Linked DNA regions of Homo sapiens: region 1 is linked to region 2. Evidence: fine-mapped expression QTL. Tissue or cell type: activated CD8 T cells. Region 2 holds a variant in brackets; the other region holds the start of a gene. All regions are shown on one strand. Distances are from middle to middle.

Region 1 (2,682 bases), 59 kb before region 2:
GGTCCTTTCTTAAACACTCCCAAATCCAGCAAGCTGGTTATGACCACCCTTCTGGTCTGCATCCCTCTGATCAACACCGTGTCTGCCAGCCCCTCCCCGCAGGCCCCACACCCAGGCCCACCCTGCATCCGGAGCCCACCTCGCACTTGGCACCCACCCTGCGTGGCCAGCCCTGCCTGCAGTTCAGGGCCTCCCCCTCGGTGCCCAGTCAGCGCCTTAGGTGGGGGCGAGGGTGCTGTGTACGACCCCCAGCCCCAAATCTTAGCAGAGCAGCAGGGCCTCTGCTCAGCAAGTTCCAAACAACTGACCACCAGTCAACTGTTTGGGGCCGACGTCAGACCCCGCGGGTCCAAAGCAGGCCCCAGGTCGCTGGGGTGCAGTTCTCTGAGGCCGAGAACGAGAACGGGGAGGCCGCCGTTACTTCCTTCCCGTCCACAGGCCCCAGGCCCCAGGCCCGCAGCGAAGAAATAACTGGTTCCAGCTGCCACGCCGAGTTTCCTCCTCCCCAGGTCGCCCGCCACAGCTCTGTTTGTTTACGTGGGCAGGGCTTGTCCCCAGGCTGATCCCCGGGCACCGCAGCCCGCAGTGACAACCGCCACCGCTTTGTTTTTCCCTCCACCCCGGTATGGGAACGGGAAAGTCCCGACTCCGGGGCGCTCGGGTGTAGCCCGCGGCTCCCCGCCGGCTCTTGCTCAGCGGCGCTATGCACCCGGTAACGCAACTCTGGAGTCCGCCGAGCGAGGAGCCGCGCCGAGCAAGGCCAGCAGCGGGGCGTCCCAAGCGGCCGCCGGGTCCCCGCGGGCGCCGGCCCGAGCTGGGCACGTGGATCTGGGGCCCGATGGGATGAGGGACGGGGTGACGTGGAGCCACTGCTTAGAGCGGGCGGGGCGGACGGAATACCGGAGGAGGGGCCCCTGCAGGGCTGCGATCCGCGCTGCCCGGGGACGGCTGCCGCTGGCGAGAGGCTCCGAGTCCCCTCGGGACCCAAGAGTTGGGGGCGTCCTGGGTCTCCCGAAGCCCACTCACCAGAGACATTTAACTGGCCTCCCAGGAACCAGCCGATCTTGCCAGTGCTGAAGTCGCAGTCCCAGACGGTGTGGTAGGGGGTGTCCCACACGAGAGTGTCCCGCGCCAGAGGCCCCCAGAAGGCGGCCGGCTCCCGGGCTGCCTGTGCACTCAGCGCGGGATACGAGCCTGGCTGTGCTGCTGCTGCTGCAACTGCGGGAGCGCTGCCCGAGGGTCCCGAGGCCGCCCTGCGCGGCGCGCTCACCCCGCACGGCGGCCGCGCGGGCTGCCCCGAGAGCCCTCGCAGGCTGCCCAGCAGCCTCCCGACGCCGCGGCCCAGGGTGCGCGCCGCCATCTAGGCAGGCTACCTGAGCTCTCTGTGCTCCCAGAGTGGGTGCCTCACGCCCGGGGCGCCCCGTGGAGTCTCCGCGGGCCCCGCCCCTGCTCCGCCCTTCCGCCACCATCCATTCCTCCAGGGCCCCCTCCCGGAGCCCGCCCGGGTCCCACCCCTTCTTCTGCTGCCCGGGAGAGGGGGGGCCGCTTAGGAAGAGGGGAGCAGCGTGGGGAAGGGGTGCAGGGGAGCGCGGGGCGGAGCAGGGTCCCAGGCCCTGGCCCAGGCGCTGCGCTCCGGTGAGTCTGCGGTCCCACCCGGATGTTCCTCGAGTCGGCCTGTTTTGGTTTCAGTTTGCACGCTCTCCTGCAAGCCCCGACAGCTTCTTCGAGCTGCCAGAGGCACGTGCGGCCCAGGACCCCAGGACGCAGGCTCAGGGCCTGGGGCGAGGGGACCCTCTGGGATGGGGAGGAGCCGGGAGGGAGCCGGCACCAACGTTAAGGGGGCTGGTGCACCCAAGCGCACTGGTGGGTCCCAAGACAATAGGTCGGTCAGTTCCGCATCTCAGAGGCTGAAGCCAAGGTTTTCATGCCTTTGTGCGCCCCTGAGAGTGAACCCCACCCCTGGAGTCTCAGCAGCACGCGAAAGGGGCTGGCGCCTTTCTAGGCTCCCGCCTAGAAGCCAGGAGGCTGCGCAAGCCTGAGTCCGTGTTCTGGGTCCCATGCTCCAGCCCCCCAGCTGCCGGCCTCCGTCCTGGCGGGGGTCACGTCCTGCTGGGGGTCGGTGGTGGGTGATATGGGGCGATGAGGACTTTCTCCAGTTGCTGCAGCATCTGTAGCCTGAGTTCAAACTCTGTGACCTTGAGCAAGTTCCTTAACTTCTCGGTGCCTCGTTTTCCTTTTGGGGAAGACGGAAGTAATGTCTCCCTGGGGGGCGGGGACGGCGGGGGTGGGCAGCTGCAGTAAGGAATACATTGGACAATGTCTGTCAAGCGTCTACCCTTGCGTGGCCCCATAGTAAGCTCAGTAGTGGGGATGATGTTTTTGCAGCTGTGGAGCCAGGAAGGACAGAAGGAAACGTATAAAACTGGTCTCCACCGAGTTCTTAAATATTCTGACACCCAAGAAGTAAATTCATAACAAACGGGTAAACACAGGGAAGAGAGATTTTGGAAAACTGGTTTATTGAGTTCTCTGTGATGGGAAAGTTTCTTTCCCTTGAGCTGTAGGGCTTGCAGAGGGGAGGAGCCTGCCATTGGAGGAGCCTCTGCGTGGGCTAGCCACCAGCCCCTGCTGGGGAATGCTGCTGTCTGCCAGAGAAGACAGGAGTGTACCTAGAGCTGGAGA
Region 2 (2,682 bases):
TGCTGCCACACACACACACACACACACACACACACACACACACACACCCCTGATGCTGTGAGACTTGGCAGCTACAGGCTCACTGGGCATCCTTCCCTGGAGAACTGCCCGAGGCTGGCAGAACCACCTGGCTCCAAAATGCCTGGAGGCCCAGCTTCCTCCACTCACCCTCAGCTGACCCGATGGGTCCTCCGCTGTGCCCCTTCCTCAAGGCAGGACTTGCTGTGGACAATTCATCCCTCACATCCTTGCTCGGTTCCTTCCACTCTCCTATCCAGCTTTGCTCACTCCCTTCTCCTCAATAACACACAAGCACCAAATCCCTGCCTTAGGATCTGCTTCCAGGAGACCACCTAAGCCAAGTGGTCATTTGGCTTAGTCAACCTCCAAGACTGGCATTTATATGGCTGTAACACGTAGAACTGTACATTTAAAAGGGTGAACTTTATTGCTTTTCAATTATACCTCAATAAACCTGCCCTTAGAAACAAGATGAACTTCATGGAAAAATAGTTACTGCTATTTTGGAGAAAATATCCAAACATGTTAACCAATGAAAAACCTCAGAAAAGCAAAAAGGGAGGCAGGGAAAAGCTATCCTGCATTTAAAATATTCTCCTGGCCCACCGGCTTGCAGCTGCCACAGGTGGAGGACAAGACAAGGGGTGGGTCTTTCCAGGGTGCCCCAGGTGCTGACTGAGCAGCCAGTATGTGATAAAATCTCCTTCTTGAGAGAAAAGGAGGAAGCACAAGACAGGGAAGGGAAGCGCAGCTCCAGGAAAGGGGTGGGCGGAGGGGCTATGGTCTCTGCTGTGCCATTCAAACGCGTGTCGCAGGGACCTCTGAGGGCTGTGCTCTCATCTGCCTGGCTGCCCTGTGCTCACAGGGCCAGCATGTGATTATTTGGGATCTGGTGTGGGTTTTCTCTTGGTTGTTTTATTTTTCACTTACCAGCTGCGTGTTAATAGAAAGTCCCCTGACTGAAGGATTTGCCCGGGATTTCTGTAATAAAAATAGAAGGATTTGTCACAAACGCTGGAAGGACCCTCTGCAAAAGTGGTATTTTTCACGTGATCATGAGCCCCAGAACATATTGTCATCCCGGGCTGCAAGCCTGGCCTCCTCACTGAGTGGCAGTGACAGATGTCCCCTGTTAATGTCCAGTGATTGAATGTCACTGCAGAGGCCC[G/C]TCCTCACCCACACAACCTGTTCCTTTCTTTCTGCAGCCACTGTGTCACGCTTGTCACAAAATCCACATTTTCTGCACATTGTTGGCCTTCTCCAGCAGTGAGCCCTTGTGCCAACCCTGCCCTGCTCCCTCCTCGGCCCATCCCCGAGGACACTGGGGGACAAATAGTACCATCACTGCTAAGTGATAATAAAGGCTGGCAGGAACACATCCTCAGCTTGGGGCGGCTACAAGGAAGGAAAGAAATAAAGAAAAAAGCTCATGAAGTTGCTGGAGTCATAGTCTCCTCCTGGGAATTCAGCCCAAGAATACAATTTATCAGAAATAAAAAGCTCTATTTAGATGGAGATTTATTGAAGCACTTGCTATCATAACAAAACACTGAGAACAACTTGAAAATCCTTTTACAGGTAAATAAATGATGATAAATTCTCTTGATTGGTTACGGCAGGACCCTTAATAATTATGGGGCACTGGTTAAACGTGGCAAATTGAGCAGCAGTTTTTGTTTTCATTGCTTCCCCAAGTACTACCAAAATAAAAGCAAAAGGGAAAAGTATACAAATGCACAGAGACAAAGAAAACGGGAGGGGAGAAAAAGGCAAAGGAAACAGTAGACAAGGAAGGTCAACAAAGATGGAAAGAGCGTGAACAGAAAAGGCCCAAGTTCCTGAGGAGGGGACACCACTAAAATGTGGGTCATCGTGTGCCACAGAAACCCAGAAAGGCTCAGGAATTGGACTCCCCAAGTACCAGGGAAAGCAGGATGAGGCTGGAGCTAAGAGGGAAAGTCTGCAGGGGAAACAAGCAGATGCCTAGAAGACACTGTCAGGGCTCCAGTGGCCCCAGAACCATCCTCCCCCAGCCGTCGGGAAGTGGGAGTGTCTTCTCTGGAGAAATGACTTAGATACATTTCCAAGGTGGAGACATCCAGCAGTGGGGGCAGGACTAAGGCACCAGACAGAAAGGAGTGATTATGACAGAAAAATGTGAGATCACTCAGGCCTAGGTCACTAGCCTGGTGCCTAATGACCTGCAGGAAAACCCACAGGTCAGCAAGTGCCCCCACCACACTCACGTGCACATCCTCACATGCACTCATACAGACTCTCATGCACACATACACTCTCACGCACACACACTCACATGCACACACACTCTCACATGCACACACACACTCTCACATGCACACACAGTCACATGCACACACAGACTCTCACATGCACACACAGACTCTCACATGCACACACACTCACATGCACACACAGTCACATGCACACACAGACTCACATGCGCACACACACTCACATGCACACACACTCTCACATGCACACACACTCTCACATGCATACACACACTCTCACATGCACACACACTCTCACGTGCACACACAGACTCTCATGCACACACACTCTCACATGCACACAGACTCTCATGTGCACACACAGACTCTCACATGCACACACAGTCACATGTGCGCACACACTCTCACA

Direction of the effects. Alleles are on the strand shown, and positions count from the first base shown. SD is a standard deviation of normalised expression in the study named.
In carriers of allele G in region 2, the expression in activated CD8 T cells of the gene that starts at base 1,397 in region 1 tends to be higher than with C alone (moderate effect, 0.62 SD a copy in Schmiedel 2018).

What was found. PIP is the estimated chance that this variant, and not a neighbour inherited with it, causes the effect.
Region 1: it holds the start of ACSS1, and the variant in region 2 is fine-mapped to the expression of ACSS1 in activated CD8 T cells (Schmiedel 2018, PIP 0.95).

What each region holds. Positions count from the first base shown.
Region 1 is chr20:25,056,743-25,059,424 of GRCh38, forward strand. It overlaps ACSS1 (acyl-CoA synthetase short chain family member 1), which reads right to left and starts at 1,397. Exons shown (of 14, transcript NM_032501.4): 1 at 1,027-1,397. The coding sequence starts at 1,360. RefSeq lists enhancers at 493-622, 1,273-1,878 and silencers at 723-992, 1,123-1,652.
Region 2 is chr20:25,116,101-25,118,782 of GRCh38, forward strand. No RefSeq gene overlaps it. Among named protein-coding and RNA genes, the nearest start is that of VSX1, 35 kb to the left of the region's middle. The variant G/C (reference allele first, on the strand shown) is at 1,190.